Regions from separate parts of the Homo sapiens genome. Here region 1 is linked to region 2. Evidence: fine-mapped expression QTL. A gene starts in region 2. The other region holds a variant in brackets. All regions are shown on one strand. Distances are between the middles of the regions.

The links. PIP is the estimated chance that this variant, and not a neighbour inherited with it, causes the effect. A credible set is the group of variants that fine-mapping cannot tell apart.
Region 1: its variant is the best candidate, but not a certain one, in a credible set for the expression of LINC02094 in tibial artery (GTEx, PIP 0.62).

The regions. Positions count from the first base shown.
Region 1 is chr17:19,318,244-19,323,615 of GRCh38, forward strand. The region is part of intron 7 of EPN2 (epsin 2); the gene reads left to right. Among named protein-coding and RNA genes, the nearest start is that of EPN2-AS1, 15 kb to the left of the region's middle. The variant G/C (reference allele first, on the strand shown) is at 2,841.
Region 2 is chr17:19,414,982-19,420,353 of GRCh38, forward strand. It overlaps LINC02094 (long intergenic non-protein coding RNA 2094), which reads left to right and starts at 3,367. Exons shown (of 3, transcript NR_186796.1): 1 at 3,367-3,888; 2 at 3,966-4,199. It overlaps RNF112 (ring finger protein 112), which reads left to right. Exons shown (of 14, transcript NM_007148.5): 11 at 57-226; 12 at 305-358; 13 at 537-611; 14 at 724-2,295. The coding sequence ends at 1,194.

The sequences.
Region 1 (5,372 bases), 97 kb before region 2:
GGGCTATAAGAGTAGGGGGTTCTTGGCTGGACATGGTGGCTGACGCCTGTAATCCCAGCATTTTGGGAGGCTGAGGTGGGCGGATCACGAGGTCAAGAGATCGAGACCATCCTTGGCCAACATGGTGAAACCCCATCTCTACTGAAAATACAAAAACTAGCCAGGCGTAGTGGTGGGCACTTGTAATCCCAGCTACTTGGGAGGCTGAGGCAGGGAGAATCGCTTGAACCCGGGAGGCGGAGGTTGCAGTGAGCCGAGATCATGCCACTGCACTCCAGCGTGGGCAACAGAGCGAGACTCCATCTCAAAAAAAAAAAAAAAAAAGAGTAGGGGGTTCTTTCTGAGCCAAAACTTGTAGTTTCAACATTGTGCATGATACAGTTGCAGAGTTTTAAAATTCTTAGCAGTGCTGTTGTTTGTTATTTTAATAGCAGATTCTAAAGGGGAAGCAGGGCCCATAAGAGCTAACTGGAGGTGTCAGAAGAGTCTCTGGAATAGTTTCAGGTGGCATTCCACTGGAGTGTGGGGTTCTCACGTGGAAGCCTGGCCCATGAGTCCTGGATGGTGGGTCAGCGTGCTGCTGGCTCATGGAGAGTGCTTCAGAACCCGTGCAGTGGAGATACTGCACATATTGCAGAGTTCATGGTAGAAAGAATTCTTCCGGAAATGTTGGCTGGGCATGGTGTCTCACGTCTGTAATCACAGCACTTTAGGAGGCCAAGTTTGGCAGATCACATGAGGCCAAGAGTTCGAGACCAGCCTGGCCAACATGGTGAAACCCCGTCTCTACTAAAAATACAAAAAATTAGCCAGGTGTGGTGGTGTGTGCCTGTAATCCCAGCTACTTGGGAACCTGAGGCATGAGAATCGCTTGAACCCGGGAGGCAGAGATTGCAGTGAGCCAAGACCATGCCACTGCACTCCAGCCTGGGCAACAGTGAGACCCTGTCTCAAAAAAAAAAAATTTCCAGAAATGTTAAAATGCCTTGTGTTAACTCTTAAAGATATAAACCTATTAGTTTAAACTGTGTTTAGAACCTCACTGTCTGAGAGTACGTCTAGATGGAAGGACAGATTCTACTTTTTAAATTTTTTTTTTGAGATGGAGTCTCGTTTTGTCACCCAGGCTGGAGTGCAGTGGCGCAATCTCGGCTCACTGCAACCTCTGCCTTCCAGGTTCAAGCAATTCTCCTGACTCAGCCTCAGCCTCCCAAGTAGCTGAGATTACAGGCGAGTGCCACTACGCCCAGCTAATTTTTTTGTATTTTTAGTAGAGACGGGGTTTCACCATATTGGCCAGGCTGTTCTTGAACTCTTGACCTCATGATCCACCTGCCTTGGCCTGCCAAAGTGCTAGGATTACAGGCGTGAGCCACCTCGCCTGGCCCCTTTTTTTTTTATTTTTTATTTTTATTTTTTTTTGAGAGAAGGTTTCCCTCTGTTGCCCAGGCTGGAATGCAGTGGTATGATCTGGGCTCACTGCAACCTCCGCCTCCCAGGTTCAAGCAGTTCTCCTGCCTCAGCCTCCCAAGTAGCTGGGACTGCAGGCATCTGCCACCACACCCAGCTAATTTTTGTATTTTTATTAGAGACAGGGTTTCACCATAGTGACCAGGCTGGTCTCCAACTCCTGACCTTGATCCACCCGCCTCGGCCTCCCCAAGTGTTGGGATTACAGGCGTGAGCAGCGTTGGGATTACACCATGCCCAGCGACAGATTATACTTTTGCAGGGAGCCTGGGTGTGCAGCGGCTGAGGCCAGAAAGGCGAAGCCTGAGGGACCTGGGGCTCGGAGCAGAGCTCAGAGACTCCTCTCTGGTGAGGGCCTCTGCAGGGGCTCAGGCATCCTGGATTCCCTTAAATGCCTAATCTTTATATTGTGTCTCATTGTCTGCCTGGCAAACTCTTATGTATTTTTGAAATCATGGCTCAGACATCCCTACTCAGGGGATGTGGTCACCCCGTCCTCAGGCCTGCCTCTTGCCCTCTTGCCATTGATGGCTGCCTGTGACCCGCATGCTGGCTGTAGTGGCTGTCTGTTTCTCTATCTCAGAGGGAGGGGCCATCCTGGGGCCAGGCCTGGGGACTGCTGACCAAATGTTGCTTGGATAGAACAAGGTGACCGTGGGAGACCAGAGCTTGTCTCCACCACGCATCTGCCCACTCAGGCTTGTAAGTCTGAGCTGGGTGCTCACATGGGGCCTCATTTTTGAGGAGGGCTTGGTGAGAGGTCTGGGTGCACCCAGAGCTCAGTGTTTCTTATGCATCCTGTCTGCCCATTTGAGTCATCTCAGTAGCTTCTAAAAATCCAAATGCTCAGGCCCACCCCAGAATCTGTGTGTATGCAGAGGACAGCATCAGTATTTTACTAAAATCCCTAAGAGCTTCCCAAGAAGAACCATGGTTGAGAACCACTAGTCTGGTGCCCCCTGGCCCAGGGTGCATGAATACCACTCAGTCTAAGACACTTGAAAGCTCCATGTCTTAGATAATCAGGATGGAGATTATGGGCCACTCTAATCTGGTTGTGTTTCTGAGCCCCTGAATTGGACATTTATCCAGAACCTGTTAGAAGTGGTCACTGAACTCCAGTGTGCAGAGATGCAGATAAACTGCAAAGTCCCTGCCAGCCTGAGGTCCTGTGGGTCCCTTGATCCTTGTGACCTCTCTTCAATCCCTAGTTAGTGATGGAGCACACCCTCTGTGTGTCAGGCTTGGATCTCGGGGATGGGCAGCAAAGCAGACCCAGCCGATGTTCTCATGGAGCACATGCTTTGGCAAGGGGGACAGATGCAGTCTCACATGCACACAAGCGGCATGAGTGCCCTGAGAAGGGTTTT[G/C]AGCTGGGTTTAGAGTGGGAACTGCATGGCGGGCTGGCATAGAGGCTGCAGAGTGGGGGCTGGGCCTTCCCAGCAAGTGCCCCACATACAGTATGTCAGGGGAGCCAGTTTGTTCGAGATGTGATGCTGCCCTCAGCTTGACCCAGTGGCTAGGAGGTGACCACCAACACTCAGACCCCCTTTGCTGTGTTGTTCACCTCAGAAGCTCAACCCTTTGCTCTGGCACGCACAGTGGCTGCCTCTGGTGCCCACCTCATAGTCCCAGTTAACACAGCCCAGGGAATAGAGAGAGTGGATTTCTCTGTAGCTCCAGTACCATTTCTGGGATTTAGGGATGGGGGACTGGAGTTGGGGACACTTTGCAGATTGACTTTAACCAGTGAGAACCCTTTTCTGTTGCCAGGGCAGGATCTGTCCCTTTTGAGACTGACTGGAAGTGGGTGAGGGGAGAATTCTTCCAAGGAGAACCAGGGCATCCTTGCAGGAGAAAGCAGGAGTGGGGGATAGAAGTAACCGGGGCATGTCCCCTGACAGAGGCAAGTGGGAAGGGATAGTAGCTGGGGAGTGAGATATTGTGCAGGGGAGATGATGCATGGTCAGGGCTGCAGGGAAAGCGAGGCTCCAGTCTGTTATCCAGGCACAGCTGGGCTGCTGAGCATGGGCAGTGAGGAAGGCATGTTGACTCCCCCAGGCTCCACAGGGGGCCAGAATCAGCCTGGCACTTGGCCCCAGGTCTCCCGTGTCCTCTGTGTTGTGTCACCGCAGTCCTGAAGTCACACCACAGCTCTTCGGCTTGCAGTCAGCTCTCTCCCTGATTTGTCATTTCCACCATGCCACTTACGTCCAGCTGGGACAGAGAGCTGAGGACCCACAAGGTGTCCTGTTGCAGGGGGTTAGAGTGAGGGCTTGTCTCTACAGTGTGATTCCAGCAGGGGGCAGATTTTTGTTTACTGATAGCCCCTTCCCCATGTCGAGCAGAGGTGGACCTGGCAAGGGCAGCTTCAGTCCTGGGGGAGGACGATCTGCATGAGACACTGGAAGACGAGGAGTGAAGTGTCAGAAGAAGCTTCTGGATGGAAACAGTTATTTCTGGAGCCTCTAGAAGGTTGTGGGTTCTGGGGCAGTAGCAGGAGAAGCCCTGAGTCCAAACAGGAGTGGACAGGCCATGAGGAAACGAAAGGCACAAGTATCCATGGGATGTTGGGAACAAAGCTTGCAGATTGACATCTGCTTTGGCCTGGCCAGGCCCCCATCGCCGGGGCAAGCTTGGGAAGGAGTGAAGGCAGCACTCTCCTCCTCTCCCTCCTAGTGCTGCTACAGCTAGCCAGTAGCTGATCCCGGCCAAAAGTGAAAAAGGCCACCAAGATAGTGGCTGGTGGGCCAGGTGCAGTGTCTCCTTGCGCCTGGCCAATAATATATTTTTACGTAAGAATTTGTGGGACAACTGAAACCTGTGAGACCAGCCTGGGCAACATAGGGAGACCCCATCTTTACAAAAAATAAAAAAATCAGCCAGCATGGGGGTGTGTGCCTGTGGTCCCAGCTACTTGGGAGGCAGAAGTGGGAGGATCCCTTGAGCCTAGGAGGTTGAAACTGCAGTGAGCTGTGATTGCACCACTGCGCTCCAGCCTAGGTGACAGAGCAAGAACCTGTCTCTAAAAAAAAAAAAAAAAAAAGGTAGTGGCTGGTGTGGCTTAATAGGCCCTTACTAAAGCTATTCAGCATTTCAGAGACGAGAAGGCATGAAGCTACATGTAGGATGCCTAGCAGTTGGTTCATCTTTTTGAAAGCCAAGGAGTCTCCTCTTCACCTGTCCATCCTTGAGCAGCAGAGCTGGGGCTTTTAAGAGAAGCATTTGTAGAATTCAGAGTAGGAATGAGGGAAGAGACTAGTTGTCTCGGAGGCTCAGGGGAGCATTCCCTGGTCTTCTGAGATTGACACATCACTGCCACCTTCTGCTGCCTTTCTCTAGGCCTCAGAGCTCAGCCAGGCTGTCACAAGCTTGCTGGGTGCCACCCTAATGTCTGGTGCCAGGGCTGAAGGTAGCCCTCACTCCAGGGAGTTTACAGTGCATGAGAGACTCATAGTTAAATAATAGTTATGGTGCTGTATGATAAGTGATCTAAAAGTCAAGGGGGGGATTCCAGAGGAGTCAGAGAAGGCAGGAAGAGAAAATAAGAGGGCCGGAGAGGCCCAGAAGATGCCAGGCATTTGGGAAGCAGTTGGGAATCAGTGTGGCTGGGGGTAAACACGGGAGCAGAGTGAGGACACCTAACACATATCTGTTTGGAGTTTCAGAAGAGCTAATATTTGAAAGCTGACAGGGTTTTCCAGAATTTTGGAAAGATGCTCCTTCTCAGATCCAGGAAGCCTGGTGAATCCTAAGCAAGATAAATCAAAGAAATCCCCACCTGGACATATCATCAGGAAACTGCAGAACACCAGAGGAAGAAAATACCTTAAATAAACCTACAGAGAACAGGCCATTCATTACAAAGAAATGGCAACTAAATGGATAGCTAACTTATTGAC
Region 2 (5,372 bases):
ACACCCCTTCTCCTCCCAAAGCCCGCAGTCTCTCAGCATGCACATCTCTCCCTCAGACACAGATGATGACTTCCGCCACCTTCTGGGGGCCTACGTCTCAGATGTGCTGAGTGCGGCCCCCCAGCACGCTAAGAGCCGCTGCCAGGGGTACTGGAACGAGGGGCGCGCCGTGGCCAGGGGGGACAGACGCCTACTCACGGGGCAGCAGCTAGCTCAGGAAATCAAGGTGTGAAAACTCCCTGGAGACCCAGGCGACTCGGCTGGGCCCCTGCTCTCCCTGACCCCAGCGATGGTATCTCCGCAGAACCTCTCAGGATGGATGGGGAGGACAGGGCCCGGTTTCACCTCTCCGGATGAGGTATGAGCGCTGGGGGATCCAGCATTCTGGCAGGGAGACAGGGGAGGCAGGGAGGTGGGGGCTGTGCCGAGGCCTCCGGGGTGGGGGTCTGTGTGCCCTGGGAGTGGAGATGAGGAAACAAGCAGCGCCCCTGGCTGAGAAGGAAGGAAGGAGGCAGCCTGGGTTTTCCCGTGGACAGATGGCTGCTCAGCTGCACGACCTGAGGAAGGTGGAAGCTGCCAAGAGGGAGTTCGAGGAGTATGTGAGGCAGCAGGTGAGCCCCGGGGCTGCACGGGAGGCAGGTGTGGGCCGGGCAGGGTCCAGATCAGGGAGAGGATACCTGGGACTCCTGGTCAGGGCACCTTCTTTTCCCCTCCCTGTCACAGGACGTAGCCACCAAGCGCATATTCTCTGCGCTGCGGGTCCTGCCAGACACCATGCGGAACCTCCTCTCCACCCAGAAAGATGCCATTCTGGCCCGCCATGGTGTGGCCTTACTCTGCAAGGGGAGAGATCAGACCTTGGAGGCACTGGAAGCTGAGCTGCAGGCCACGGCCAAGGCCTTCATGGACTCCTACACGATGCGCTTCTGTGGCCACCTAGCTGCTGTGGGGGGTGCTGTGGGGGCCGGGCTCATGGGCCTGGCAGGGGGCGTGGTGGGTGCTGGCATGGCAGCAGCTGCACTGGCTGCAGAGGCTGGGATGGTGGCTGCTGGAGCTGCCGTGGGGGCCACAGGGGCCGCTGTGGTTGGGGGTGGCGTGGGTGCTGGGTTGGCTGCCACAGTGGGCTGCATGGAGAAGGAGGAGGATGAGAGGCTTCTGGAAGGGGACCGAGAGCCCCTTCTCCAGGAAGAGTAACAGCCCCAGGAGGTATTGAAGGACAGGAGAGATGTCAGGTGGGGATGAAGAAGAGGGGCAGGTCGGGGGAGGGTGATGCCAGGGATTCCAAGGCACCGCCATGTACTGCACTGCCCTGGTCGAATGCTCGGTGTCTGGGTGGCAGCTGAGCTGGGACTCAAGGTGGCTCTTGGAACCTGGGAGGCAGCATCTGGGGGCAGTGGATAGAACACCCGGCCTGTTTCTGGTTGCAGATGGTTGCCGATCTGCCCTTGTCACAGATAGGCTACATCCCAGGGTTTCTGGCTGCAAGTGAGACTCCACCCTCCCCACCTGGCTCATTTCCCCGATGACCCTGGATTGTAGGAAAGTTAAGCAGGCACCATCCTGGAAGTCTACCCCTAGGTGGTCGAGAGACCTGTTCTTTCACAGATGTGAGAAGCCCCAGGATGATTGACCATGGTGTTCAGGAGCGGGGAGCACTGATGAGGTGCTGGGGATGACAGGAAGGAAGGAACACTGGGCAGAACCAGAGAGATGGGACATGGTAGACTGTGGCCCAGACCCCAGAGCAGAGAAACTTGTTCCCATGACCCTTCCCAAATCTGCTCCAGCAGGACTAAGGTGGCTTTCCCACTCCTGGCCCACAGCCCCAGAGAGCCTGTCTGTGCATCCTGAACCACTCTTTGCTGGGCCTCCGCAAGGGCCTCTCTTGGGTCTGTGTCCTTTTTCAAGCCTGTTTAGATGGGGGAGTGCCCATGCCCTCTGTGAAGTGCCCAAATGCGAAAGAATAACACCTTTTCTTGCATTCTGAGCTAAGCCAGACAGCCTTTATACTAGATTCTATCAAAATCTTGCAAAGGAAAACAAAATGAACAACTTCTACCCTTAAACACATCCTTTCTCCCCTGGGCTTGTAAGAAGATGCAGCTTGATGCAGCTCCTCAAACACCAGGCCCCCTGGGAACTGGGGGTGCGGGAGTTCTCCCTCTGGGGGACAGAAAATCTGACTACTAGGAAGACTTCTAGGCTATGAAACTGACTTCTAGGCTATGAAACTTACAGGGTATGGGTGGGCACATTATCCTTTATTTTATGAAAAATAAAATGTGTGTATGTGAATGTCAGCTTCCCAGTATATTATTGAAACAGAATTTAACCCTCAGATGACTTCATGGTGGGAGCAGGTGAACCAATGAGATCCATTGCTGGAATGCACAGATGGGAAGAGGGAGATTGGAATTCAAGAGATCCAAGGAAGTGAACGTCAGAGGTCCCCATTCAGTGGCTGCAAGAGGCCTCAGGCCAAGGCCAAGTGGATATGGGCACCTTTGCAGGCTCTTCCACTAGGACTTGGGGTTCCGCTCCTCTTGTCTCCTCTCTGAGAAACTGCTTCCCATGATCCTGTCAACAGGCAGTCAACAAGCACCTGTCCCAGCAAGAGGACAGAATGGATACATAAGCAGAGAGAACTTGGTCAAGCCTTGAAGGAAGGAGAAGCCCAGGACCACTTCTGCAGGGCTCAGCCAGCCAGGAGTTCACCCAACTGATTCTCCTCCCAGCCCTGCTCCCCAGCTCCCCAGCTCCCCATCTCAGAACCACAGCAGTAGTCACTGCATCCAATCCTGGCATTTTATAGGTGCACACCCAGAGAGAGAAAGTCTCAGATAAGCCTGTGCAGCTGCTGATGACAGAAGCAGGGGAACCCCGAAGTCCTGGTTCCCAAGCTGGTGCACTTCCTGAAGTTATTTTGTTAAGGTCGACTGTGCTGAAATTGAGATGCTCCTTTTCAGATGCTTCTTCTGGCTGATCAGGTCCAGCTCCAGGGAAGTGTGTGGTGGGCAGAGGCAGCAACGTGGTCTAGAACAGATGGCTCAGCAGTGAAGCTATAGTTAACAGGCTGGGGACAAAATACAGAATGTAGAGAAATCCCAAAGCCAGGGTGGGGTTGAGTGGGGTAAAGACAAATGAGAGTGACTCTCTCTTTTAGGGTCTGAGCCAAGGGTGGGAACAGGGTCTTAACTTTGTGTAGTGTTTGTGGAGAAGGACTTTCTGGAAGCATCTTTCTGAGCCCTTCCACTGTCATCTGGTGGACACATGAGCTATGAAACCTTCCAGACTTTGGAGGCTCAGGATGAGGGGGCCCAGAGACTCAGAGAGGGAGGGTGTTACATGGCTAGAATCCCACCCGGCAGCACTGGAAGGAACAACAGTTCAGTGTCTACCTCTCCCCACTCTTTGCACAGATGGGAAGAAGTTGGCCCAGTGAGGGATGTCTCTGCAGAGACAAGATGAGTAATATTAAGTGGTGTTTGTCTTGTGCCTTGTAGCTTTCAAAACATTTCCTCAAACATTATCTCCCTTAAGCCTTGAAATCATCTCAAGCAGTATGTAGAACACACATTTTCACAGAGGAGGACGCTGAAGCTGAGAGAAATAATGTGTCTCAGTGGAAACAACTAGTCAGAGGTAGGCCAGGACTTGACCCCAAGAGTTCTGGTGCCAAATCCCTGGCTCAGTGGAGCCTTCAAGCCTCTCCAGACTCCAAGACGACCAGGCTTCTGGGTTCCAAACCTGATTAGTTGGCTTCCTGGGCTTCCAACATTGATTCTGTAATTCACAAGAGCCCAGGTGTGACTCATTGACCGAGGTCTCAGCAGCATGCTGACGTCTGGCTGGTTTCCCTTCTGTGACCCACTGCAGGTTCCAAGATTGGTAGGTTCCAAGATTGGGTTAGAGGTTTGGTGACTTGCCGTGTGGTTCCTGTTTCTGAGGCCTCCCTCATGTTGCAGATGGCAGTACTGCAAGACAAGAGGAACCTGCGACCTGAAGGCCCTTGACTGCTTGGATCAGGAATAAGCCCTCAACTCCACTGGCTCTCATCAAACCACGCCGCGAGCAAGGAATAAACTTTTACTGCATGAAGGGGATGCGACATCTAGGTCGACTTAGTACACCATCACCCACCCTACTCTAACACACACAGAAATGGGTTCTTTGAAATGGAGTGATGCTGTATCAGACAGGTAAAGTATCACCAGTTGGGGGCTGGGCAGTAAGGAAAAGCATTTTATGTCACAGCAGAACGTTTGCTAAAATTGTTGCCTACGGCAACTTGGAAGACAGACCTTGTGCTATCGAGGAAAAAAAACTATTTTAAATAAAATCTCCTGCCAACCCAGAATATTCTCTCCACAAATGTAGAAAATAAAGAAAATACTAGTTCTGTGATTGAATAAGCATTAAACACATGGATGCATTATCAGCTAACGCAATCATAAAGACAGTCAGAAATCCCCCTATTTATGTAGTCAAGCAGCTACAACCCGTTACACACATGCTGTCATGTGTGAGGACTTGAACTCAGGTGAGAGAGAGCTCCACAGCGTCGTTTGCTATACATGCACTTACAGCGTACCTAATTCACCTGGTGATTGGGGTGGTCATCTGTGCTAATTAGTGCCTTTTTCTGTAGGGAAAATAAAGCAACTTGAATCTCTAGGAAATGCAGTTGTTGGCCGGGCGCAGTGGCTCACATCTGTAATCCCAGCACTTTGGGAGGCCGAGGTGGGCAGATCACGAGGTCAGGAGTTCAAGACCAGCCTGGCCAACATAGTGAAACCCTGTCCCTACTAAAAATACAAAAAATTAGCCAGGTGTGGTGGTGGGCACCTGTAATCCCAGCTACTTGGGAAGCTGAGGCAGGAGAATCACTTGAACCCGGGAGGCGGAGGTTGCAGTGAGCCGAGATCACACCACTGTGCTCCAGCACAGGCGACAGTGTGAGACTCCGTCTCAACAAAAAAAGCAGGTTGTGCAAGGCACCTAGGCACGCCTTGACACACCGTTGGTGACAGCAACATGTCGTCCTTGATGTTACACTTACGAGAGGGGGCTCCCAGCCTTTTCAGAAAAACAGTTTTGGGTTTTAATTCTGGTAAAAGATTTATTTAAACTTTAAAAAGACTTGCATAAGTATCTGAAGGAACAGAGGAAGGATTTACAAATACAGGCTTTCTCAAGGAAATAGAAAGGGGAGGGGGAGAAGGGGTCTCTTTTCCTTTTGGAAACAAAACGAATGCCATCTTATTTTTATTTACCTTTACAGTTTCCCGCCCTTTGTTATCATTATTGTTATTATTATATTTTTGAGAAGGAATCTCACTCTGTCGCCCAGGCTGGAGTGCAGTGGCTCGATC